Homo sapiens: one gene and its partners. The protein of the gene in region 2 purifies or fractionates together with the protein of the main gene of each other region. This does not show direct contact. Each region holds a gene or a part of one and is shown on either strand. Other genes may lie near its edges.

Region 1 (6,967 bases), on a different chromosome or scaffold from region 2:
AGTTATTTAGCACTGTGTCGAAGGCCTCTTATGTGGAAAGCAGTGCAGGGAGCCGTGCCCTCTCACAAATGAAGATTAAAACTTGCTGGGCAAAAGGAAGACAGTCTGCCTACTGCCCCAGCGTGGAGAAGATACCCAGCTGGGGGATCCCTGAGGAGGGGAGTGGAGGCAGAGAGAGCTTTACAAGGCCTCTCCACTCCTCACAACACCCTGGGGAAGGAGGGCTTCTGTCCTACTCTGGCTAGATCCCAGCTGCAAAGCAGAAAAGTTTCCAAACACTCCCAGGAGGTCACTAAGAGAGATTTTTACCAACCCTAATTTCACATGGGCTGGTCCAATCCTATCTTACTAGCCAAGATAGGGCAATGGCAATCAGCCCCTGGGAAACTTTCAAAACACAAATTAAAGGCACATAAAGATAGTACAGAAGTCTCCGGCCTGGAATCGGGGTTTCTCTTTCTGCCCCTCCCCTCACTCACCCTCCTCCAAGTGGCCCCGGCAATGGAAGCTGGGGAAGGGGAGGGCAAGACCAGATTATGCCCTCTCTCAGGGCCGCCCTGCGGCTGGGCGGTGGTGGGGACCTGGCGCTCATCTCCCCAGATCCACGCCGCGCCCCCGGCCGGGGTCGGCGCCCCAACCGCCCCCCAGGCCCGCGGCCGCATCTCACCATCACATAATGGCGCTGCATCTCCGTCTTCTCGTTTGCCAGCTTGTCGTACTCCACTTTGAGGCTGCGAGGGCAGGAGGAGCCGGCTCAGGCGTGGCGCCTGGACAGCCTCCTCTGAGGCCCCGACCCAAGGGCCTCTAGAGCCACTTTTCCACTTTCCTGACACCCCCCCGGGGGCGCCCCCATTATCCCACAGCCTGGGGACGCGGGGGGATTTGGGTCCCCGCCGTGGGGAGGGGGATGTGAAACAATTCGAAACTTCCCGCGAGCCAAAGGACTTATCACGGCAGCAGGGGAGTAGGACCCTGACGCTGGCTCCCGACACCCAGAACCCGGAGTGAACCCGCTCGCCGCGACCTAGACCCTCATTCGGGGACCCCACGGGCGGCGCTGGGAGCCGGGCTGCTGCGGGCAGTAAAGGGTTAAGGCGGCGCGCTCGGAAAGGGGAAACAAAAGGCGGAGGCCCGGGCTGCCCCGCCGCCCCTAGGTCGGGAGCCCCCTCCGTCCCCGCGGGGGATGGCAGGAGCCGCGCAGGGGACCCACCCCTCCCCGCCAGCCCCGGGGCGGCCCCCACCGGCCTTACCTGTGATACTGAGCTTGCAGGAACTGGAATTCGTCTTTGATCCTGTCACAAGACTCAGCCACCGTGAATTTAAATCCCGGCTGCCCGGGTTGATGGGGAGCCTGGAGCCCGCGAAGACAAGACAGGGGAGGGGGCGGGGGCATGAGACCGCGCTCAGAGCGGCCCCGGCCCCTCCCCAACGGCGCCCAACCAAAAGAGGCCACCCTCAGCCCAGAACCTTCCCAGCAAGTTTCTCAGCTCTCCGACGGGGCGGAGGGGGGGCGCCCCATCTCTCCCCGTCGGCAGCGGGGCTCCCATGCCTTTCACCAAGGGCCTCCCTCTCCCCAGTAAGGCGGGGGCGGGAGACAAGCCGGGTGAGTTGGGAGACTTCAGAGCGGGGCCGGGGACCGCGTGAACAGCTCCCCCTGGAACACAAGCAGCCCCCCGCGCCACTCGCGCGGAATTAACCTCCTCTCTCAACGGCGCCCCCCGGCCGCATCCCCCTTTGTGTGAGAGCACACACACAAACACACACACCATAAAGGTAGCAACAAGCAAAATGGAGGTGCCAGATAAACTGCCTCGTTTACCCTGCCATGATAGATGCTTAAATAAACCGAGTTGCAATTACTCACCGGATGTCTGCCCTGCGGATACATGGCAGGGAGGGGTCGTGATTCCGAGAGCGTGGAAGCGCCGAGAGCCCGGGCCGGGGAGGTGCGGGGGAGGGGGGAGCCGAGCCCGAGCGGGGGGCGGCCGGGAAACCGAGAGCTCGCCCCCGGCCCCCCCAGCTCGTTCTCGCAGCGAAATCCCAGAGTCGGGCGCCCGCCCCAAGTGGAGACAAAGAGCCGCGGAGCAGGCGGCAAAGTCGTCGGCGGGCGCCGGGGCCGGGCGGCGGGCGCGGGCTTTGTGCGCCTAGGGCTCGGCGGGCAGCGGCCGGCCGCCTTCCCTGGGCTGCGTCGAGCGCGTCAATGCCTGGGACTGCGCGGACATCGTCGGCTCCCCAGCAGGTCCGGCGCGGGGTCCCGAGGCCGGGGGCCCCTCCTGGGGCGAGCTCGGGCCCCCTCCGGGTCACTCAGCGGGTCGCGCCTGTAGGGGGGCGCGCCGGGGCAGCCCCAAGCATCCGGGGCGCGCGGGTCCGATCCTAGAGGCGTCCGGGCCTGGGGCTCGCGGCGAGAAGAGGAAGGAGGCGGGCTACGAGGTGGTGGCTTGGGGCCGCAGGAGCGCCGGAGGGTGAGGGCGGGAGCCCGGCGCGGGCGCTTCGACGCCCCCCCTCGGAGAGGAGAGCCTGCTGTTCCGTCTGCTACTGCCGCTGCCGCCGCCGCCGCCGCCGCTGCAAGCCCTTCCCAGGGCCGGGGAGGAACTCCGGGCTCAGTAGGTGCAAATCAAACGCCCTGGCATCCTAAGTCCAGCGGGCACGGGAAGCCTCCGCAAAGGGTTCTCGCTGCTCCCAGCTTGAGCACCGCGTCCCCACCGAGGAGCGCTCAGCGCCACCGCCGCTGCCGCGTCGGAGCGCACAGGCAGGAGAGCGCTGGAGGGGAGACGCAGCCCGAGACCGGGGAGCTCTACGGCTTCCTTCCTTCCCCTCGGCCCGGCTCTCCTCTCCGCGCCCCGGCAAACCCCCAAAACACACACACCCAACACACACACACGCGCGCACGCACACACACACACACCAAAAAAAAAAGTGCCCCGGACCTACGGATACCACACACAGACAGGCGAAGGGGACGAGCACGAGGTCTGAACTGCCGCGAGAGCAGTTCCAAATAGGGACTGAAAAGTAACAAAATAATGTGGCAGCTTCGTCCGGCGCTGGCCAATGGGAGCGCGGGGCCCCCACGTGGGGCTGCGGGACTCGGCCTACGACTGGGTGCCGCTGGGCGCGACGTCACAATGCCCTCTTGTGTCTAAAACTATGCATGAAAAGTAGCAATCAGGCCCTACCCGCTGGTGACTTTCGCATGGGAGTGAAAAACAGCGCTCCTCAGATCAGGAATTAACCGAAAGACATATAATAAATAGATATATATTATAGTCCTGGGCTGCTCGAGTTTTTTTCCTCCTTTTTTTTCCCACGGTCTACTAGCAAATAATTATTTAGCGGGAGGAGGAAAGAGGGAAGACAGAGGAATAACAACAAAAGAAAATAAGACAAGCTGTACAATCTTCAAAACCTGTGGCTGGTAGTAATGTATCAGTTTATTCTGCAGCGGCGGCGAACGATTCCTCCCTCTAATCTCATTAGGTCTGCAAAGCAGCCCAATTAGATACTATAAAACAAACAATCACTTTGTCACTTTAATGTTTTCACTTCAAAAGATTTAGGACTGATAAAACGGTGGCTCCTAAAGTTGCCTCCGACCTTTAAAAATTTGCTCGGAACTCAGGATGTCCCCTTTTCTTCACCCCTTCTTCTGCCCGCCTCCCCCACATTAGCCCCCAGCTCTCCTTTGTTCACTCGCCCTTCTTTTCAGAAAGCCAAATAAACAGCTCCTTTGATGTGCGGCGGCTGCCTGCGAGGAGAAGTCTGAGGGACTCTGGCTAGGCGGGCAGCGCAGATGGAAGGGCCCGGCTGCCCGTGGACAACAGGCTCAGCCACGGCTGGCCCCATTCGGGGCGCCTTCCCCGTGGGCACAACTTCACCCTCGACGCAGCCTCGCCGCGCGGGCTCCTCACTGCATCCCCAGGCTGAGGGGGTTGGGGATGGGGTCGGGACCCTGCTCGGCCGAGGCCCGGGAACTCCGAGTTCCCACCTGGTTTGCTCAGCCTGCTCCCGGCAGTGCCACGGCGTTGGCGGAAGCCTGTAGGTGTCTCGGTCGCTAGCCTGGACACTCCGAGGGACGCGGACGCTCCCCCGCTCGCTCGCCCCGGCCCCGGGCCCCCCGGACCCCCCGCTTGGTCGCACAGGCCACTCGACTCCGGGGCCAGCTTGCCCGCAAACCGATGGCCTCGCCCTCCCGCGCTCGGGGTTACGGCGGGGCAGACGAGCAAGCAGGGAGTGGACCTCAAAGCGCGCACCGCCCGGTGGACGGCCAAGGCGGGACCCCCGGGGCCCTCCCCGGCAAGTCCGCGAGCCCGCGCGCGAGCCGGCCGCGCGTCCCCGGATCTATATTTTCCCCTCATTAGGAGCCGGAGGTTCGCTTTTGCATCTTAATGAGGAGCTGAGAGCTAGCGGGCGCTCGGAGGCCGGAGCGCGGGGAGTTACACGTGAGCACCCGCCTCAGAACTGAACCTCCCCGCGCCCGCTCCGGCCGCCAGCCCCGAACCGCGCTCCCCTCTTCATTTATTTATTCTCCTAAATAAAAACATAAATCGTGTTTCGGCGCGCACCGAAGACGGGGGAGGGAGAAGCCCGGCTCGACAGATGCGAGCATCTGGCCGCAGCATTCATTAGAAACAAAATGGCTCCTCTTTGGCGCTTCCTTTCCCCCTCCCCCTTCTCTGCCCTCCCCCTTACGTCACGGGTGGGCGCACCCGCTTCTTACTCGCCCCGCCCATTTCTCGCTCCAGCCCCACGTGGGGGACGCCGACCACGCCTCCGAGCAAGGTGCGAGTCACCAATCACGGACCGCCGAAGGGGCTCTTCGTTGCTGATTGGCGGAGCTGCTGGGCCCTGTCAGTCCGCGGCCAGAGCTGTCAGTCAAAACCACGCGGGGTGGGGGAGCGCTGACAAATGCCGAGGCTTCTGAGCCTCCCGCTTGCAAATAGTGCTTGGAATGGCTGCTTAATTAGCTTTGAATGGCTTTTCCTTCCAGCTCAAACAATCTGTCACTACCATGTGGTATAAAGGAGCCATGCATAAAAAAGTAAGCAGAGGCTAAATATCAATTTGATTTTGTGTATCAAAGGAATATTTTATTTTTCTCCCTAGTAATGAAACGTATCAATTTAAATAATAAAAGGTAAAAACACACACACAAACAAAAAAAAAAAAAAAAAAAAAGAAGAAGGAAAAGAAAAGAGGAAAAAAAAGAAAGAAAAAGAAAACCCAAACTCTACGGTGTGGCGACTCCTGCGCACGCCTGAAACAGGTCACTTCCACAGCCCACGTTCTGGAGGAAGCCTGAAGACTTTCCCCTCCCCCCTTTAAACTTGCATTTAGTGTTTTGTTGTCGTCGTCCTCCAGAAGTCTAGAAGGAGTGGTGGAGGAGGGGTGGCCTGTGAAAGGGGACGTGGGGGCGGGGGAGGGGGCGAACTTTAAAGGGAGCTCTTTGAAGCTGCTACTCAAAGTAGAGGGGGTTTTAAGACCCCGTAAACTGGGGGTCCTACAGCAGGTCTCGATTTGGGAGCTGAGAGGAGAGGGGGATGAGAGCGGGTGTGCGTCTCGCTCGGATTTATTAAACACAATGCCTTCAAGATGCCAGGGACGCGGCGCCTCGCCGGGCCTCCCTCTCAGTCTCCCTCTGGACTGGCTCCGACGGCGCCCGCCAGCAGGCGGCCGAGAAGCCGCGGGGCCCCCAGGTCGGGTCTTCCGAAGATTGTGTACAGAAAAGGACAGCAGCTCTGTCTCTCGCCCGGGTGTCCCTCCTGCCCCGACGTCCACGCCCCCCGGTGACCACACGAGCCAGAGCGCTCCAGCAGGGCAGACCCACGTCGAGTTCACCTGTGAGCCCCAGCGCCAGGGCCGAGCCCGGCACGCTGGAGGAGTTCGCGGCTGCGTGTCCCCGACGCGGTTTTGCAGAGCGCCGCCTCCTCCGCAGAGCCGGGCGGTAGAACCACGCTACGCAGTCAGGAAGAACAGCGCTTGAGCGCTCACTAGGTACAAGGCAGGGCACTGCTACCCAGGCAGCGCTCTCCTCTCCCTTACCTCACTCCCGAGGGAAGCAGTTTGGCTGGGGACCCCATTTTATAGAGCAAAAAAGAGAGGCTGAGAAAGCTCAATCATTTGCCCCAAGCTGGGCAGAGGGTCAGGATTCGAATCCAGGGCAGCCAGTTTAATGGCCAACCTCAGCGACCCCTTTGCTTACGCAAGCTGGATACGTGCAAGTTTTTGCTGAAGAAAAGGCATTCATTCATTCATTCATGCCCAGCCCTTTCTGAGAGCCTGGCTTTGGGAGAACAGGCCTCTCCTGCCTGTAGCTCCCACTCACTCCTCACCCAGCGTCACTCCCCGCTCTCACCGGCTGCCTGAACCCTGAGCAGGAAGGGGGCAGGGAGGTAAGGAACCAGGCCAACATCCCTTTAAGCTTACCACCGCTATCTCCCCGCACCCCCCCACCCCGCCCCAACATGCCACCCCACAAATTAGGAAAAACAAGGAGAAAAATACATGTCTTTTATGCTGGAGAAAGAGAAAAGAAAATAAAAAACATGTATACAACACCCCGTCCAAAGGCTTGACAATTATTTTAAAGAAGGAGGGGAGTCGAGAGAAAGAGTTCAAACGTCTCTGTCTCCAGTTCTAATTGGAAACGTTTCAACTGTTTATGTTACAAGAAGTGTCAGGGTCATTTGCTACCGGAGAGCTGACTTTTCATTGGCTGCTTAATTGAGTACCTCGGAGTCCACCCCACGTGGGAGAGGAATTCCTGGCACATTAAAAAAAAAAAAAAAAAAAAAAGTCACCCGGGTGAGACAGAAAGCCCGGCCTGGATTTACAGAGCAGCGGCTCCCCAGCCCCCAGCCCCTTATTTGGGGTGCAAGGTGGCTGGTGAGCAACTGTCTGCCAGTCCGAGGAGCCACTTCTCTGAGTCTTTTAAAATATTCTTCAAGCACTTTAGCTGAGTTAGTATATG
Region 2 (7,780 bases):
ATTCTAAAAGTCAAAATTCATACAAAAATCATGATATACAAAATAAATAGTATACGTCAGCAGCCGGGCCCTTGGGAAGGCGGCGATTGCCCAAGAGGAAGGTTGCAGAAGGAAGGTGGGAGCACGCGTGGAGGAGGAGAAGGAGGGGAAGGAGGAGAAAGGAGGGTGCAGGAGTGTGAGGAGAGTAGGCCTGGCTTCCAAGCCCACAGGATCAGAAGAGATTTTTCTTTTCTGTTTTCTTTTGCAGTTCTTGATCACGCTGCGAGTTTTGCACACAATGTTAGCACGCTGATTCTTCCACTGCCGGGAGGAGGCCCGGGGCTCTGAGGGCCGGTCCCTGCGGTAGTGAGCTCGTGGGGGATGAACGGGGAGCGAGTGGCCGCGGGGAGGAGCGAGAGGGTCGCAGCCCCGAGGGCTGTCCTGTGAGCAGGCTGCGGGGCCTGGCGCGCGGGGACCCGGGGAAGACGCTACAAGGCCTGGAGGCGCCGCGCCTTGGGACCCGGAGGAGGCCCAGGGCGGACACGTGGGGTGGCCTGGGGTCCCCCGCCCACGTAGCGCGGCTGCTGAAACTACATGTGCCCTGGGCTGCCCGCCGCCCTGAGCCTGAGGCCAGGCGGGTCAACGTCGCAGCACCGCGGGCTTCTGCCAGAAGGACATTTCCCCTCACCTCCTGACCACATCGGCCTTGGAGATGGGCGCGAAGCGCCTTACGCCCACAAGACATCCCTTTATCGGCTCTATAGCTGGGCGAGACTGAGGTCTCGGACGGAACGCGCGCACTCACACCCCATCCAGGAACTTCAGTGACACTCAGGGGTGCTGGCTCTTTGCTTTGCCCTTCGAGCAAGACTTGGGTAAGGGCTCCTCGAGCTTTCTGGTGCGGAGGCTTCCTGGGTCGGCCCGAGGCCTGTAGGTTCCCGGCCACTTCTTGCAGCTTGGCTGCGAGGGAGCGCTTCTCCGGGACCACTTTGGCTCGATAAACTAAAACCCGCGGGGTGTTCGTCGGAAGGATCCTGGGAGGCAAGGCTCAGACCCGCCCTCCCGACTCGCGGTGAAATCCAAGGCCGCGCCGCGCGCTCCCCACGGGGCACGGAGCCGCGCGCTGCTCTCGGCGCGCCCCGGGAACGCGCCGCAGCGGCCTTGGAGGGGCTGCAGTTCCTCTTCTCACTGTTCTTGGGAAGTCTTTCCTTTTCCGTAAACCTAATTTAGGAATCCAAAGGCACCGAAGCCCGTTAATGTCGCTTTTAAAGTGTCTACCAGAAAGAGCTGGAGGGAGGCTGTGGACAGGAATCTCCGGCCATGTTCGGGAGTAGACAGATGCCCTTGTGCTGAGAAGCGGGTCTCCCTTCTCCCATTCTCTCCTGCCGCCAACGGTGGCTGCCAGGCTGTGCCCTCCGCTTGGCACCCTGCCCCGCCGTCTCGGCTCTGCTCTCGACCACGGCGCCTGCGGACGGTTGGTTAGACCTGCCGGGACCGGTCCCTGCAGCTCCCAGCTAAGGGAGCATTCGTTAGCATTCGTTAAGCGAGGGACCATTGTCCAAAAGCCGGAAACCGATTACTTCCTGGACAGTTTTGGGGGTCGACTGTCTTCTGAGTTCCGGGAGCTACAAATGAGAATTTGAAAGAGTGGTGTATATAAGGAGACATCTTCCAGTCTTCCATATAATCAAATTCCATATAAACAAACTCAGATGTATAACAAAATTTTACATTCTTAGGCGCCAAAGTTTAAACGGGATGTAAATAACAATCCAATACCCTCCTGTGGCCCCAATGCTCTTTGTACATTCCAAAACTATCTACATTATATATGAGCACCCGAGAGACATGTTTCTCCAATCGCGAATTTGCAGTTCAAAATTAAATATGATTAAAATTCTGTATTATGCTTTACTTATGTTGGGTTTATTGTGAGTGTTAGGCTTTTTATACACATTAGGGCATTAATCCAAAGAGCTATCTTCCAGGTAGGAATGAACTATTGGCCCTATTCTAACGCAGATGAAGAAACTGAAGCTTTGAGAGGTTTAGTAACCTACACAAAGTCTCCGGGCTAATGCGTGTGTTAAAGTTAACATTAAGACTTCAGCAGCTTCCGCTGCCAGCAGTCAGCCTGAGAAGGGCCTAGAGAGATGTGTTAACGTGCTTGTTTTGTTCCAACCCCCGGGTGGTTTTACCTGTTAACCTGCGCTATCAGTGGCGTTTTGAAGGGACCTCAGAACTCCCCACTCTCCGCTTTGGGAAGGCTTTGAATCATCCTTCGACAGCACCTCTCTGCCCAGAACCGGTTCCCCGTTTTTATGGCATCATATTGATTTGCAAAGGCAATAAATCTAGGAGGAGGGACGGTGTGCCCCCGATAATAATGTTGCAGCATATGTTTTACTGCCGAGGTTTCAACACCAACAAGATGCATAGCCTAGAGATCCCCAAACGGGTCACCCGGATTTGTTTAAAGTGGCCTTTTCAATACCTCTCGTTTGCCGCCTGCCTCCTAACGATCACTCATCTTTTCTTGTATAGTATTTTACCTGTAGTAGGATGCGCAGTCGGGGTTTCCTGCACACAAGAGACACAGAGCTGGGCTAAGGCCGCGTAGGCACTTGGAAAGGAGGAGGAAACAGATTTGTGGCAATTCAGTTTTTCCCTTGCTTCATCAAATTTTCTGAAAATGTTCCTCTCATGATATTATTCATATTCCAGTCAAAATCATTGAGGTAATTAAGAAAAGACACAGTTGTTTTCCTCTGTGTAGAAAAACAATCAAAAGGGTTTTTTTATGAAGTATAATTTTGCGGCAAGTTTTTGAAAACTAAATTCAGCTAACAAGGTTTGCCACACCCTGTTGAAGCATATATCAAGGTCTAGACTAACCATAACATTCCCCGACCTTCCAAAATCCCCACTTCTTGAGGGAAATCTTTCTTTCTGGACAAATCCTAAGCATTTGATATAGGAAAGGAATCAGTGTGTGCCTTCCACTCAATACAAAGAAATGTCACTTACATTGAGAAGGTGTGTCTGGGGAGAGACAGGTTGGGGCGGGGGACTTTAATAACCAAAAAAGGGGTCTGGATTGGGTCTGGGTTGTCCAAAACCAGCAAAAAATTTAAGAATAGAAACGGATCCTCAGATGCATCCTGCGGTTTAATCTGAAAGCCCTCTGCTTGCCAGCCGTCGTTAACTCTACTCTGGCTCTTCAGCTAACAGCCCAGCCACAGCTGCAGGGCCAGGGGCTGATGAGGGTCGGGGCCCGGAGTGTGAGTCCTGCCCTTCCGTCTGCTTCTAGCCGCTGAGGTGGACTGGGGGGAGATGCGCGCTCTGCCACGTCGGGCCCTGTTTTTCTCTCTCAAACGCACATGGAGACCGGCTAGAAGACAGCGTAAATTCCTTCCAGCACCAAAGTCTATGGTTTTACGAATTTCCTCAAACATTTATAAATCGACACTTCGAACTTCGATAGTGATATGAGAATGCATTTTTTAGTCACCTTCATCCAGCACCTTGTTAAAAACTATTGACACACGATGACCAAGACAGGCTGAAATCACGACTCTTCCAGATGTCATCATTTTGTTCACACAAACGTTTTCGACAGCTATTTTAACTTGCCGTTTTCCCTCACAAATTTATTTCAGGAGTAGGGGGTGGTGCAGTGAAAAGTTGGAGTTTTAAAAATTATTATTATTATTTTAATTTTAAGACCCACGAAGAGGCTTCTAATAGCCAGACCGACTGGCTGGAAAAGAGAACAAATATTTACATATACAGCTTGAGTGTGTATGTCAGCCTGAGTTTACACGGCTCCAAGCGAAGCGGATTACCCTGCGAATTCGGAGAATTTGAGTTATTCAGGCTGAGCAGGGCTAACAGGACGCCCTCCAACAAGGCCGTGGGAAGTCCTCGTCACAGCCGCCTTTGTAAAACCAGAGGGGTCTGTGTCCGCTTAGTCCGGGCGCTACCATAAGGTTCGCACTCTCCCACTACGCGTCGCGTGGTTACCGTAGAGCTCCGCGCCCTGACCTTCGCCTTCTCTTCGGCAGCCGTCCCATTTTCCAGGGTCCCTCTAGGGAAAATAGGAGCCCCAGGCTAGAGACGCACTGGTGAGGAGCAGAAGCCACGGTTCTGAGAGCAGCATCCTTTGCCAAATGCCCGCAGCTCTCGCTAAGCTTATCTTTTTCAGGGCTGCATTTGCTCAGCCCCACTGTCAAAGAGATCAAATTTGGGACCATCGAATGAGAGTCCCAGCCCTGGGATCTGCCCCGAGTATGGACCTGGCCAGTTGGCGCCGGCTCAGAGGCGCCGGATTCTACTGAGCGCTTCCCTACTTTCTTTTGGAACTTTGAGCGCAGGTAAGAAAAAGAATGGAAAAAGCGAGAACTCCCGAGGCTTCCACTGGTCTGGTCATAGCTTCCCCAACTGGGCCATGCCCGGATCTCGGGCGTTAGGCCGCGGTGATGTGTCCTCTCCCGACAGCGCGCACCGCCCTCCCGCCCGGGGCTGTGAGACCAGGTGGGGATGTCCATGGCTGCTGCGTCAGCCTAGTGGTGGCACCCTTTTCCCTGAACCTGTGCTGGGGTACCGAACAGCCGGGGCGACAGGCCACGCGGGCGCCGCACCCTGGGCGCGCCCTCCGCGCCCGGCCCGCGGCCCCGCCCCCGGCGGCGGAATCAGGAAGCGGTGACGTGAGACGGCGCTGACTGGCTGCGGGCCTCCGGGATCGCCGCCGCCAGCAAATTAAGGCGCAGGGCAGCGAGCGCCAGGGCTCACTGTCCGTAGTTCCGCGCCGCGCTCCCCACGCCAGCGTCCTAGCAGCCGCGCTCGGCTGGTGGCCACCTCAGCCTGGGACATCCCGGCTGTCCCCAGCCCCAGAGGGAGGAAGGACGCGGAGGGGATGCTCCAGGACCCCAGGACTTTGTGCAGTTGATGCTCGTTTCCGCCTTCGGGCTGTGCAGACTGTCGTCCTGCCGAGCGCCCCGGGGCGTGCGCACCCGCCGTAGTGCTCGGTGGGCCCTCTCCTCTCCGGCTGCCTTCGAAGTCTCTGCGGCTCTGGGGCTTTGCGGTGGGGAATAGAGGCCAGTGTGCAGCTCTGGAGTCGTTGGAGCTGACACTTCTGGAGTCCCTGGCCCCGCTGTGACTGCTCTCGGAAACTTTGAGCTGTGTTTCGGGTCTTTGTCTCCCTTGGGGAATCTGGACGGCAGTTCGGACGACCCCGTCCCTGGCCAGGACCGCGTGCTGGGGACCATGGAGTTCACGGCGTCCCCCAAGCCCCAACTCTCCTCTCGGGCCAACGCCTTCTCCATTGCCGCGCTCATGTCGAGCGGCGGCTCTAAGGAGAAGGAGGCGACGGAGAACACAATCAAACCCCTGGGTAAGTTGGGCTACCCGGCTGTCCGCCGAGGACTGGGGATGCTGCGCATCCGTCTGTGCCCCTGGCTGCAGGCGGCTCGCAGCAACGTCTGATGCTCAAGCCATGAGCCATACATCGCGGGTGGGAGATCTTTTTCTTTTGGGTCCAAGTTTTCTTTGGAGGCTTCAGTCTGTTGAATGCTGTGAATGTGCATCTTATATCTGGGCCCGTCGGTCTCCTAAGTTGTCTAGAATCCATATATCAGATCAGACATATGGTGTGTGTGTATGTTTGTTGGGTTAAAAACATTCATGGAAAAATAATAATAAAACCCCTTTTAAGGCTCAACAGGATTTACTGTGCATGTAACACCTGCTTGTGCGTTTGAAACGGAGACGCTAAAGGACTTCATAAGAAACCAGTTTAATTTTGGTTTTCCTCTGACTTGAATAGACAAAACAGAGCAAGCTCTTTGAAACCACTGTAAAGCAGAATAAGCCAGTTCTCCCTACACGAACCATTTTATTCACTGAAGCTCTAGACTTATCACCAAGACATCATTTTATAACTGTCGTCATTTTCAGTTGAGGTTGGCAAAAACACTAACCAGTAACCATTTCTCAAATTCCTCTACTTTTAGTTATGTTGTTTGTTTAACAACCTTTACCATTTATAGAAGACACTAGGCTAGGAGTAAAGGGAGAACAGGGATTATGTTCTTCTTAACACTAGTGAATTACATGGAAAAGAACCACCCCAAGATAAATATTTAAGAATCTCTTTACAACTGAGGGAAAAAGAAGTGTTCTCATCATTGCCTCGTGGATCCCCAGGAAATAATTGTTACACAGCCTGATCGTCTGGTATCACTACAATGTGAAAATCAGATAGCAAACTTAAGTTAATTTTTCTTTTTTAACCCTCCCCAATTTTTCCTTTCTTCTCTCTGTCCTTCCCACACTTAACATATCACATCCAAAATAATGATAACATGAAAAAAAGGAAGTGTTAGAGATCAAAAATAAGGTGTTTGGGCTTAAAGATGAGAGAAGTAAAATTCCTGTAGCTACTTGAAACCAAGGAAAAAGAAACTAGTAGATCTGTAGAAAACAGAATGTCAAAAAAAAAAAAAAATCTGTCCTCTAAGTTTTCACCCCCTTCCCCTGGTTCTTCCCACCCACCTCCCATCTAAATCTAAACCTGCCAAAGAATGGAGACAATCAATCAAACAAAATCCAATTGTTTAGAAAAATATAACTAACAATTTCAAAGTTATATTGTGCGACTTCTCAACATTATACATTGCTGTTTAGGGGCCCCTGAATTCTTTGTAAACATCTCAGCTTGTTACATAGCAGGAAAAGAGGATTCCCGACAGAAGTGTAGACAGCAAATTGGGAAACATGCCAGCCCCAGCTGCACTGTCATTTCAACATTGCTTCCTTCTCTCTTTATTTTTCTGAGAAAAGCCACCTTATATCGAAAATTCTAAATCTTGAACTTTAAAGCCATGCCCAGCTCACAACTCCAACCCTACCCCCATGCCCACACACACATATAGGCACTAGTATAAAATGCATGTCCCTCTCCTGGCTTTTGAGATGGGCTCTGAAAGAACTAGCAGGCGTTCTTGTCGCTTACACTGGCCAGTTCAACAGAGGTGACTGCAAGCCAAGGACTCTATCAAGAGAAACACCTAAAAGTTCTGTTAAGAGAGAATGTGGGACTTTTGTTGAAGCAAACTATAGAGTGGGGAGGGGGATTCCAGTGTGTCCCAGGATTGCCCTTTTAAACATACAAAGTCTATTTAAAGGAACAGCTTCAGTCTGCTGAAGCATTTCTATTTCATTTTCTTCCTCTCCTACTTCCCATCCTGATGCATTGGTCAGTCTGGGGCTTAGGGAGTTTGCCTCTTTCAGTTGTCAGAAAAAAAAGTCATTAACACTACTTCTTAATTCCCTCCGAAGACATTATGTGAATGTGTTTCTGAAAATATTAGTAGAAAATAAGATTTTGTTATGGTATGGTTTCCTTTCGTTAATCTGAAAAAAATCAGGATGGCATTTAATTTGATTATTCTTAAGTTAAAACATTTTCATGGGTTGGATTATCATTGCATGAGAAGTAAAAGTAAAACCACTCTGTTTCCTGTTTTCTTCATGTACGGATGTGTAGGAAATAAAACACCTTATGATCTGTGCGTGTCCCATATGCCCACACACATCATGTACATGTACATACATACATTTAGAACTGGCTTTGATTTCTTGAGGGCACTTAAGAGATCAACTTCACATTGCAAATTCAAGTAGTTTCTTTTTTAAGGGATGGAAGATAATTGGGACAATTACAGAAGTCTCCCTGTATTCCATCAAAGTGACTGGTGTAGTCCCAGGCCCTTATCAGCTGTGGGGGAGAATGTTTGGTTCA
Region 3 (5,393 bases), on a different chromosome or scaffold from region 2:
ACCTGGGTAACAAACAATGTGAACTCAAATCTTTAAACAAAAAAAAAAAAAAAAAAAAAGGAGAGAGAGAGAGAGAACGAAAGAAAGAGAGAAAGGGAAAGAGAAAGGGAAAAGGAAGAGGAGATTGGGCCTTCCTAGAAAAAGGAATATTTTGCCTTCCAATGAATCACCAGAAAAAAGTAGAGCTTTAATCTTTGACCTTGAATCACAATAGTATCATAACAAAAGAACAAATCTTGATGAAGTAATTTTACTTTCCTAAAGAAAACTGTCATTAGTAAACCTTCAATTACTCACAATTCCTAGTCTTGAGCTCCCAGTAACTCAAGCTTGTGAAGGATTAGGTTCTAATGCAATGGGAGCCTACCACCAAATATATTTATAAAATAAGCAGTGCAATTCAAAACTTCCTCTACAAATGTATAATCTTTGCTTATAAAACCCACATTGATGATCCCAAAGCTTTAATAAAAAACAATAAAGAAAGAAAAGGAAAACCACTTATTGGTACTAAAGCCTTTACTGTAATAAACCAAATATATTTACAATTTATACAAATGTTTAACCTTCAACAAAAATACAAAAAAACATTTCACAAGATGCAAAACCAGGAAACAAGTTCATTGGAGACACCACTGCTCTACAAAGGACGGAAAGTGAGGTGAACTGCAAGGAACAGAAAGGTAATCTCACACTTGGGCAAGGCGTGATCCCCAGATCACCCAGAAAGAAAGAATGGGCTGTCATGTGAGTCGGCAGATTCCGTTCCTCAATCCTACAACCCATGGCCCCTCTGTCCGCTTGGCCTTGGTGCTCCATTTGGTCTATGTAGACAGGTGACTTTCTGCTGATGGACTTGTCGCCTCCTCTTTGTAGACTCAAAGTAGTTTTCTGTCAAGGTTTGGAAACAGGTGTTTGTAATTTTTTTTCTCTTTTAAAGTTACAACTTTTCTATTTCTATAAATTCGAAACATTTTGGCCCAATTCAACTATAAACGTTAAACCACATAATGTTTTCAGTAGATGACTTCATAGACTGTAGCCTTCTTGTCCCCCGAGCCAGTGACTATGTACTTATCATCCACAGAGATGTCACAGCTAAGCACTGACGAGGACTCTTTGGACTGGAAGAGAAAACAATGGACATGTGTTTAATGTGGAACAACGGTACTCAGAGGCCCTGCTCCCTCGGAGGCACCTTCACTCCTGGCTTCAGAGGCGACACTGTGGTCAAACTGTGGATCTAGGTGAGGAGTACTTACTCACCTGGAATATGCTGGCTCCATAGGGGGTCCGCCAAGCATTGAGGAGGTTATCTTTTCCAGTACTCACAAACCATTTACCTAGAATTAGCAAAGGAATATCTAGTTTTCACAAGGTTAAAATTCCTACTATACAATTAGCAACTTGGACTTAATCAAACTAAGAACATTTTTAATATATGAACTATCATGCCCTAAGGACTGGTCCATGATATGAACAGAGGTTTTAATCTGGGCTCCTCAGTGATTTATCAGTGATCTTGGGTATAATCTAAGAGGTATCAGCCTCCTTAGTCACTGGATACAGGACTAGTAGCATCATATCCAACACACGGTAACCCTCAAATATAGAAATCAATGAAGAATGTGTTCTATTTTAGTCAGTCTCCTCATGATAAAATGGGATTAAAGATTCCCATCTTTAATGGGAATTAAAGGATTAAACATCCAACTTAAGTAAAATGCCAGTCACATCATATAGCATGAAGAAAAATGCTCAATAAGTGATAGGCACTCATCCACCCATCCATCCATCCATCCATCCATCCATCCATCCATCTATGCATACTGTGAACAGATATCTGCCCATCTGCAGCACACAAGAAGGGTCACCACATGAACTTCTTCCCTCTTCATCCTCACTGTAGAGTAGAGTGTAACTAAGTGTCTGCGTATACCTAAATATCGACTTCTCTAACCCTGGATTCCTCATCATGGCCAGCTCATAATGACTTCCACTGCCCCTGCTCCATTCTTCAATAAATTCCCGCCCACCCCTCTTCAGAGTAGAAACTCATTGTCGTCTCCCAACCCCTCCAAAACAAACTTGTGTCCAAACCGTGTATTAGGCAATCACATTGCCTGCTGACTTTTCTCAAATTAGCAAAACAGACTGAAACAGACATTGCTGTGCTCTGAAGGGCATATTAAAACAATAGAATTATTGCATCCAGCTGCTCGGAGAACATTTTTTCCAGATTATGATCTCTACCATATTTTTTTAAGAAGCATTTTCCATTTGGGCCATCAACGGCCTCCAGTTTCCTTTCGGCTGAACTCACCACAGTAAGCAAATTTCAGGGACAGCACGCAGCTCTCATGCAGGTGCAGCTGGTACTTGTCAGGCTTGTTCACGTGCAGCACCTCCACATTGCTGCTCTCCATGCCCACTGCCAGCCACTCCCCGGTGGGGCAGTACCCCAGGGAGAAGATCTACAAGGAGCAAGACAGGCTCACTCATTATTCCGCCTGATACACTTAGGAAGGGAAGACGCAATGTGAAAAGTGGGGAAATAGCAAGAATGGGGGGAAGTAATCAGCCAAGTCCAGACTGTGGGGAGGTCCACAGGGCAAGTGATCTAACGCAGATGAACCAAGTGTCAAAACCTTTAGGAAACTGGAAACATTTGAACCCCTCTGTCTTTTGGGATAAAATTAAGAAATGATTCCTAATAATAATGGCATTCATCTGTACATTTTAAAGGAGGCTTTACCTTTTAGAGACACTAACTGAAATACGATCATATATCACCTATCAAGGGGGATACATTCTGAGAAATGTGTCGTTAGGTGACTTTTTTTTTTTTTTTTTTGAGACGGAGTCTTGCTCTGTCGCCCAGGCTGGAGTGAAGCGGCGTTATCTCGGCTCACTGCAAGCTCCGCCTCTTGGGTTCACGCCATTCTCCTGCCTCAGCCTCCCAAGTAGCTGGGACTACAGGCGCCCACCACCACGCCCGGCTAATTTTTTGTATTTTTAGTAAAGACGGGGTTTCACCGTGCCAGCCAGGATGGTCTCGATCTCCTGACTTTGTGATCCACCCGCCTCGGCCTCCCAAAGTGCTGGGATTACAGGCGTGAGCCTCCGTGCCTGGCCTTGTTAGGTGACTTTATTGTGTGAACTTCAGAGAGTGCACTTACACACACCTAGAGAGTGGAGCCTATCGCTTGTAGGCTACAACCCTGCACAGCATGTTACTGTACTGAATACTGTAGGCAACTGTAGCATAACGGGAAGTATTTGTACATCCAGATACATCTAAACATTGAAAAGGTACAGTAAAAATATAGTATTATAATCTTAAGGGACCACTGTCACATATGCGGTCTGTCCTTGGCTAAAAGGTTATATGGTGCATGGCTGTGCTTATGGATACAATGATATGCTGCTAGAGTTTATTTTAAAATAATCCAGTGTCTGGGGGTGGGAACGAGAGTTATCATATGGCCAAATAACTTCAAGCTGAGCGATGGGCATGTGGCATTTATTGTACAATTCTCTGTGCTTTCATAAATGCTTGGACATTTGCTGTACTCATATGTATTTGAGAATTTCTCTAAGAAGTTTTAAAAAAAGGCAGAACAAAAATTGTATCCTGCTTATGTTGGGAAAGAGTGAAAACAGCAAGACTCTAAGAAACTCAACAAAATGTTAACAGGAATATGAAATTTAGAAGTATATATGCTTGTTTTCTGTTTCTGTCCTAGTTTTCTGAGTAGAATTATTTTTATTACAAAACAAGGTAAAAAATAAATGCCAAGTCATGATCGAAAGAACAATTCTACCACCAGAAAGCATTTAAAATGGCAAACACTGTTTTTTCCAAAACAAGTCTACATTCAGACATTGGACATCAAAATACTTTTCACAATCTACAAAGTTGCCATTTATACATTATTTCAAAAGTCTGCAAATCTAGTCAGCCACCAGTTCATTTTTTAAAGGATGAGGAATAAAATGGGTATCACTGAGGTATCTGTGCATTTTTTTGAGCTCTCTGGTGCGGGGTAAATAAATGAACTTTCAGAGGAGCTGTGACTTTTCTCTACTCTTAGTGACATTCTGCAGATTTCTCAAGTTCTATTTATTTAGGAATCAAAAAATCATCTCCTACTCCTGCATTAGATGGTGAGAATATGTGCCACAGATCAAACACTGCTGAAGGAAAACTATACATTCTTCAATGTACAAATCCCTTAAACAAACTCATATGTAAATATAACAGAGAACACACCTTAACCTACAGGATTCTAAAAACCACTCTAGTTTTGGGGAAGGTAGGGGGAGGGTCGTGAAGGAGGAGGTGGTGGTCATTGTTTTTAAATTAGTTATCTCAAATTCAGCCCTGATCTGTTTGTCCAGCCACTACCATCCTAGGGTAAAGGAGGGAGGGTTGTGAGGAGGAAGACACACCCCAGCCACCTCCCAGACTCCAGGGCAGGCGGAAGCCACTCAGTCACCTGGGAGGTGAAGTCGTGCTGCTGCAGCTGCCGCCCCTCGCGCAGGTCCCAGGACCTGACTGTGTTGTCCAAACCACCCGTCCAGAGCTTGGTGCCATCATTAGAAATGTCAATACAGCTGGCTCCGTCTGTGTGGCCCTGGAATTGCCTGATAAAACAAACCAGATTGAATAATGATTTCCTGCCAGAGCTCAAGGTAAACACTGTTGTGTTGTTAGTTTTGGACCGTGTGTGTGTGTGTGTGTGTGTGTGTGTGTGTGTGTGTGATCCCGCCAGTGTCTGCTGATGTGCAAGATCAAACTAACCTTCCCCTGAGGAGGAGGGGAAACAGCACCTGCGATTGTCTTTCCCTGTTTTCCACGATCCAAGTGCTAAAGAAATGGAATGCCACTGCAGGTCACTACCCAGAACTTAAATATGCTACTCTGACAAAACCGTCTGGAAGGTAAAATTCTTTCCAGGTCTGGAAAAGTGTTTAATTGTTAAATAGAAAATAAAAGACAAACACACAAAATCCCGATTGTATTCCTTATGGGAAGATAAAGGTCTGTTCTTTAATCGTGCAGGCCTGAGTCCGTGAGAGAAAGAAATGGGGACGTTACAAGCACAGGGTGTACAGAAGCATTCCTGTTTCCATGAGTGAATCAACACAGCAATGCCCTACGTGCCAACAGAGCATGAGCTCATGTATTTACTCAACCTTGCTTTCTGTGTTAGAAAGAGCCCTGCATTAGGAAATCTGGACTCCCAGAGACAAAGGGTCACGCATGCCGGCCTCCTGACCTCAGAGGCATTGGGCAGAGACACAGGTAATTGCTGAGGCAGACCCACGGGCACCTCAGCAAGACTCTGCCTCCAAGCGGAGCACAAGGTTGTTCTTTAAAGAACCTTGTG
Region 4 (7,028 bases), on a different chromosome or scaffold from region 2:
TTCCCTAGCCCACATGTGGGAGATTCCGAGTGAAAGCAACCTCACCCTCTCACCCACTGAAAGCAGTCTGCAAGCAGAGGGCAGGCTGAGCCATCCATGGACTCTAGGCAGTTGCAGAGAATCCCCCAACTCAAGAGGTTCTGCGTATGAGCCTAAAGTTCAGGGACTCTCTATTTCAGGAATGAACTGGGGCCTGAATCTCTAACCCATAGCAAACCCATCTCCCAGGAGATATCCTCCCACATAAATTTATTTGAAGTCCTGAATCCACCAACTATTAGCTGTATCACCTTGTGCAGAGCTGACCCTGTTTAATCAACTTTTGATTGGATATAATCCCTGTCTTAGGATCATTATGAGAACTAACGATAAGAATTTTGGCAGTGTGCCCAGACCAGTGGTAAGCGCAAGCCAGATATATAATAAATGTTTACTTCTATTGAAAGGAAATTCCAATTTCACTCAAGAATCACTGCCTTAGGTGAAAAATCCAGATATCCTCCTATGGTATCTCTAGAAAGACAAAAGAATCCATCATGGGAGAAGGAAAAAGGGAACTCCCCACAGTATTCGGAAAACACACACCCTAAAACATACACACACTGTAACAGGTTAAATTTCATCCTCCAGATCTGCTTCCCGTGCAGGTGCTGTAATAAGTAAAAGGACAGGTCACTGGGTCCTGCCCAAGGTGCTTCCACTTACTTATCAACTGCCCTAATACTAGACCTTCTGAAGGGTTTTGGGAAAAAATCTAATTTAAAACCTACACTCATTTAGATTTACTAAACAGGAGTAAATGAAGTTGGCCTCCTATTTTAAAATGCCCAAATGAGAGGTAAAGGGGAAAAAACACCACCAATACCCTTCACTCCGTTAACATTAATTGTGGAATATTATCAGCGTGTAAATAATCTTAAATTAGAAAAGGTGGCTTTAAACCTTAATGAAAACCAAAAACACAAGAACCCTTCCCACCCCCACACACATAGTCTTATAATTGTATCTGAAGTTTATGCAGACATCAAAATTTCACTTGTCATCTTTAAGATTTTATAATCTAGTAGTATCTACCCACTATTCAGGCCCTCTAGATTGTTATTTCCTAATATTTCTGAAGCAAGATAAAGTTCTGTCAGCAAAATCTTCATTTATTAGTTACTTTCAGCTAGAACACCCCATCTTCCATGATAGTTCACTCTCATTATTATACAAGAGTTCAATTATACCTATCTCTGAAAAAAAAAAAGGCACTGGGTAAGAATATAACAGACACATTTGTGCCTCCATACTAAAACACCTACTCCTCCATCTACTCTTCTAAATCTAAGAGTACACAATAAGACAGAAGATGTGCAAAAAACTGGCAAGGTTGAAAAAAAAAGTTATCATAAGGGAAATGTGGTCTAAAATGAACTTTCAACAAACTTCATAGCAAGCAGTGTCCCCAAATAAATTTACTGCACCCTAGATTCAAGTACACTCAAGGCTAGAATGTCATGCCAGTCATGTATTACTTCAATCTCAATAAATCTCTTCTTACTCTCCAAATCCTAGCTGCTTTCTAAAATAGTTCACTAAAAAACACCAACCTAATTAACAACAGCTTCCTCTGCAACAGTGGCCTTGATTTCACTTATTTACACATTAACTGCAGCCTGCTTTTGGCCAATCCAGTCTATTCTCTGTACCATGCCGAGCCTTTTATCTGCCCTGGACAGCATTTTCTCCAGCAGATGAAGTAGATGCCGATTGATTTGCTGTCGAGCATGGTAAATTAATAGCAACAAATTGCTGAGGGCCCGTCTCGCTGCTCCACCATGCTTCGGCAGTTTTGCTTTATTTGCTCCATGATGGGCAGCAGTCGGCCTCTTCAAGTCAATTTCTTCTTAACAACCTGCAATACTTTTCAATGGTGAAAATAGAGCTGTTCCTTGTAAGTCAGAAATCAATATCTTATTGCCCTTAGAAAATGCTAAACAAGCAGTATTGGCAATCCACTTGGTACTAGAGGGTATCAGATACAATGCAAATCCATACTGCTTCCCTCCTTGTAGTTATTACAGTTTGCTAAAAGGTTCCTAATGTCATTTATCATCATTTACCATCGACCAAAGAGGCTATGATTATGATATCCTATCAGTTGGCAAGGCCCTTTCATTTCTATTCAATTAATATTTTAGCAGCACTCAAATGGTTGTGGCCCAAGTCTCGTAATAAAATTTACATGGCTTTAAGTGAAACAGGAGTTTTCTTGCTTTGATTAAATATACATATATATATACACACACACACACACAAATACACACACATATAAAAATACACACATAAAACATACATAAATGTGCAGTACTTACTTTCAGATTCTATGCGTTTTAGATTTCTAAAATTTCCTGATGATTACTAAAATTCAAATGAAGAAGCTTTCACATTGTAGAATACTAACTATAAGGAAGTCATAGATGTTCTCATGCTCCCCTTTTCAAAAGATGGTATGTTCATCTCCATATAGTTCCTATAGGTTGAATTCACATACCTACTGTTCCTAATCTATATCCAATACTCACTTTTTAGAATGGTAACCACTGCTGTCAGAGTCCATCAGTGAGGACTTCTTTAATGACAGCATTACAGGTGAAAGATGGGAAGAAGCAGCATTTAGTAATGCTATCAACTCCATGCATCACCCCACTGTGCCATTTAGAAGCCACCAACCCATTTAGAAGCCACACTGTATTTACAAAGAAGAACAATCAGCAAAAAAACTTAACAACTAAACCCTGGGTCAGCTGTCTCATACAAAACAAAAAACAAAAACCATACACTTAGGGAAATCCTTAGGGAATAAGGGCCTATGTTCTTTCATTTTTAAAAATTCCATTTTGAAGACGTCACACTAAAACATGTGCCATTTCTAACCATGTCCTATTTGTCATCTTCACTTTTATGCTAGAACTTGAGACAATGGCACAGCATTAATTCCCATTATAGCCTAGAATACTTCATCCTTTTTTTTTTTTTTGCTTCATCTGCTTAGCTCTATCAATCCTAAAGATTACCAGAAATTTAGATTCATATTTTATGTTCCAATTCCACGTCATATCACCAAGTTCCCCTTTAAAAAAAAAAAAAATCCACTAATTCTACCAGACTAATGCTATTTACTCAGTTACCAAAATTTAAATTAATTATGTTCTCAAACATAATTGTTAAAAATTGGCAACATTATGCAGGCTTAATTAAGATTAAATCCAATTTACTAAATGTACTTTAATTGGTACTAATTACATTAGCTTTCATTTCAGAATGACAAATTCCCCATAGGTTTCATTTTATAGTTCTCTATCAGAATCAACACAGGGGGACTGATGATGAGCACCACATAGAAAGGGTAGGAGGGAGAACACCGACCTCCACCCTGTTTGTCTTTGCTTCATACTTTTATCTTTTTATCAGTTTGCTAAGTCACAGAGCCATGACTGCATCACAACCACCATTTTCTGTTCCAATGAAAAATTTCTCTAAAAATAAATATTCTGTGGCTAGCAGCAGCCAAGAAGAACAGGAACGTTAACCAAAAAATACACAAAGGTTTCAAATATCAGGGCCACCAATTACTAGGGTACTTCCAAGGGCTCCCGGGACTCCTACTGTTGAACCCTTCGAGACACAAATCTAATAAGTGAATAAACCTAACCCGATCTTGAGAACTAGGCCCAATTATGCCGCAGGGCAACTTCCCTGCATTATTGCTGCTTTCCATTACAAGGGTATCCAGCGAGTACATCTGGAAGAGAGGCTAAGAGGAACTAAGGCTGTCTGCCTAGGAAAACAAATAAAGACAGATATGCCTCTATGCTTAAGGGGGAGAAAGAAAGAAAATATAATAAGTAGGTGGTTTGCAGGGCTGTCTGTATTTCATAATGTGATAAACTGCCCTCAGGATTCTTGATATGATTGAATTTAAAAGGAAACGAAAAAAAGGGAAAATGTACTGTTCTCAATTTTAAATGGATGGCATTTGAGGCTAGCTGGACAAGAAGATGACAGAATTATAGCAGTATAAAATGTGTAAAATTAAGGGATTTCACATACCCCCTCGAAAAAGAAATACATACAGCCAAATACAAGCTATGTGCCTCTTAGAAATGTAGATGGTACAAGGAGACCTGGAAACTAAGTGGTTAGGGTAAACAAGATACAGAAGGAGAAATAAAGGGACTAAATTAATCATCTGGTCCAATCTTTAAAAAGACACTAATTAATTTTGGGGAGTGGGGTGCAGACAAAAAAAGAGACATACACAAGATCCAGACCTCAAAGGAAATGTAATGGGATAATTAACAAACAATATCTCTCATGTAATTTATTCCTGTAAGGTAGAACTAAGAGAAGTCCATCCACAAGATTGAACAGATTTTGTTTAAGCAGAAGATATTTACATTACTAATCTAAACAGAAATGACAAAGATGCCAAAATAAGAATTTAATTTCAACAGGCCATTCAAACTATACTATAATGCTAATATTGACATAACCAAATAGCATACAAAGTAAAACAGTATCTGAAATTAAAAGTCCTCAATGTAAGCAACGTCTCATTTTTTTCCAACTTTTTGTTTTCCAATACTATTCATCAGATTGCCTTATTGTCTAACAGCCATCTCTTAAAGATCTACTATCTGGGATGTTCTGAGCATGTAGAAAATAACTATACCCAAAAAGGAATCCATAAATAGTGAAGGCCTAATAGTATGTGCTCATTTCATATTTTCTCAACTTAGAAAGTAATGACATCCACCTTGACCATAAATAGGAAATGAAAAGCAGTAAGTTTTCCCTTGTCTTTTTCCCAGCAGACAAACACATACACACCTATTCTGAAATGGCTGATGAGACCTGAAGTGCTTCCACTAGGAGATCACTAAAAATAAATGCTTCCTAGAGGAATTACTATCGCCAAACAATATTTATATATATATATGTATGTATATATATTTGTGTGTGTGTATATATATATATAGATAGATATACCCGCTATTATTCTTCTGTCTAGGAAATTTAAGCCAAACCATTTTATTCAGTCTCCTGCACAAAAAGAAGACTGTTTGAGTCGTATCTCTCAGTGCTTTCTGACTAATCATTTTTTTTTTTTTTTGCTACTGAACTAATTGCTAGATTTCAAGACCCAATGTTGAACCTTATCACATCCTCCTATCAGGCTCATTTACTCTGTACAAATTTTGGAAGTAACGGTTATAGTTCTTGGTAAGACCCAACTAAGTAGCCTCAGGGGACCAGTACAAGGATTTTACATCAATTTCTTTTGTAGCTCCACAGATTTCATTTTCATCCTCCCAGCTCACCCTCTATCCATTCTTTCACATCAAGCCAACGAAGGCGCCACACAATTTAATTTTACTGTTTAATATTTTCCAAGAAAAGCTCTTTCACAAGACAAGTTTGCAATGCCCAAAATACATAAAGCAACTCTTTCAGAAGAATAACAAGAGGATTTTAAAATTTAGCATCCTGCTTTTGAAAGTGTACAGAGTTTAATATGTATTCAGACTTTTTAAAATAACATTTTTAAATTATAAAAATTAGGATAATATGAAAGAAAGATGGGGAGCCACACATGAAAAAACAGCATTTTCTTCACTACCCAGACTTTTAAATACAGGTAGCCACAACGGCTTGCAGAATAAAACTGCAAAACATACAATTTTCTTTTCATAGTGTCCCAGTATTACTGTCATTTAAAATGGTTATAAAGAAATAACTTACCTGCTTGTGCATTTCTATATTCAACCCATAGGACATTTCATAATACTGTCAAAGAAGGAAAAGCAATTAAATGCATGACTTTCATCAAACAATCTCCCTAGTTTGTTCAAAATGCCCCAAGTAAATCTGAAACAAACATAAAAGCCTCACCTAAACCAGTATCTTCATATAACCTATGCCAATAAATCAAGAGCCCATCACTATCTTTAACCACCTTAAGACACAAATTCTAAGAGAAAACACACAAAACTAAGAAAAATTAAATTCAAACACAGCATTCTTAACATCTCCAGTTTCTTTATACATCCCAAGCAGATGCATCAAAAAAGTCTGATGAAAATTTGGTATCCTACGGACTCTTAATTCCTAAGCACAGCAGGCAAGTTAACAGCAAAGAATGCCTTATACAAACGCTGATGTTTTGAAAGGAAGGTTGGAAAAGGTGATGCTACTTAGAGTTTGATTTCTGATTTGTTAGTGTACTGCTCATATTCACACATTCAAAGCAAAAAAGCTAGATAGAAAAATAAATGAGTGGGTTATTCTGGAGCTTTCTTGGACAATCATAAAAATATGCTTCATAATACTTCTGTAAAAGCAGATCTGGTTTTTTGAACGTGTAGTATAACTGGCATAGAAATTCTGGCAGAACACATCAGTTATACAGGAGACTACAACATTCCTCAAACCAATATAACACTACAGAAATTGAAAACATACAAATATTAATGTAATAGTAACATAAAGAGAAAAAAATTTGAAAAATGGTCTGCTGTCTTTCCTTATCCATCACTCCTTTTCAAAGAAATAAAACATTATTTTTTAATAATGTCTTTAATAATAAGACATTTACAATGTTAACAGCATACAGAAAAACTGGCAAAAATTGTTTGGAGCAAGAGCAATAAAACAACAAAGAAAGCCACTAACACAAAAACATTTTTGCTTGTGACAAAACAAACAAGGTTTTGTTTTTATTTTTTTTCGATCTGTAAAAACAAAGCACAGAAAATTATACCCCATGTGGCTGAACTTTCTGAAAATTCCAATCAAAGCCAGTTGTCAAAGGCAAGTTATAACAGCCTAGAATTACAGGTTGCTAATAGACATATTCCCACAACTTCAACTGCACTGGCAGGGTGACTGTGATCTATCTTGCAGCCCCCAGCAATTTAAACATATTCTTGTTTTTGGTATTCCAAACTAATAGGCACTTTGAATCTGTGACATGGTTTTCTTAC

Evidence for each region.
Region 1: the proteins of TBX20 (region 2) and TLE3 purify together in Homo sapiens (affinity purification with mass spectrometry; 3 studies listed by BioGRID and IntAct, with this or other methods). This does not show direct contact.
Region 3: the proteins of TBX20 (region 2) and TLE1 purify together in Homo sapiens (affinity purification with mass spectrometry; 3 studies listed by BioGRID and IntAct, with this or other methods). This does not show direct contact.
Region 4: the proteins of TBX20 (region 2) and TLE4 purify together in Homo sapiens (affinity purification with mass spectrometry; 3 studies listed by BioGRID and IntAct, with this or other methods). This does not show direct contact.

What each region holds. Positions count from the first base shown.
Region 1 is NC_000015.10:70,094,911-70,101,877, forward strand, and holds the start of TLE3 (transducin-like enhancer protein 3), read right to left. Parts: upstream 3,008-6,967; 5' UTR 1,889-3,007; coding exon 1,865-1,888; intron 1,843-1,864; exon of another isoform or gene 1,770-1,842; coding exon of another isoform or gene 1,767-1,769; intron 1,352-1,766; coding exon 1,251-1,351; intron 732-1,250; coding exon 668-731; intron 1-667. UniProt on the Homo sapiens protein: Transcriptional corepressor that binds to a number of transcription factors. Inhibits the transcriptional activation mediated by CTNNB1 and TCF family members in Wnt signaling.
Region 2 is NC_000007.14:35,251,085-35,258,864, reverse strand, and holds the start of TBX20 (T-box transcription factor TBX20), read left to right. Parts: upstream 1-4,764; 5' UTR 4,765-5,244; coding exon 5,245-5,371; intron 5,372-7,780. UniProt on the Homo sapiens protein: Acts as a transcriptional activator and repressor required for cardiac development and may have key roles in the maintenance of functional and structural phenotypes in adult heart.
Region 3 is NC_000009.12:81,583,182-81,588,574, forward strand, and holds the end of TLE1 (transducin-like enhancer protein 1), read right to left. Parts: intron 4,696-5,393; exon of another isoform or gene 4,648-4,695; coding exon 4,500-4,647; exon of another isoform or gene 4,494-4,499; intron 2,475-4,493; coding exon 2,324-2,474; intron 1,344-2,323; coding exon 1,267-1,343; intron 1,125-1,266; coding exon 1,017-1,124; 3' UTR 502-1,016; downstream 1-501. UniProt on the Homo sapiens protein: Transcriptional corepressor that binds to a number of transcription factors. Inhibits NF-kappa-B-regulated gene expression. Inhibits the transcriptional activation mediated by FOXA2, and by CTNNB1 and TCF family members in Wnt signaling.
Region 4 is NC_000009.12:79,574,937-79,581,964, reverse strand, and holds part of TLE4 (transducin-like enhancer protein 4), read right to left. Parts: intron 5,833-7,028; coding exon 5,788-5,832; intron 1-5,787. UniProt on the Homo sapiens protein: Transcriptional corepressor that binds to a number of transcription factors. Inhibits the transcriptional activation mediated by PAX5, and by CTNNB1 and TCF family members in Wnt signaling.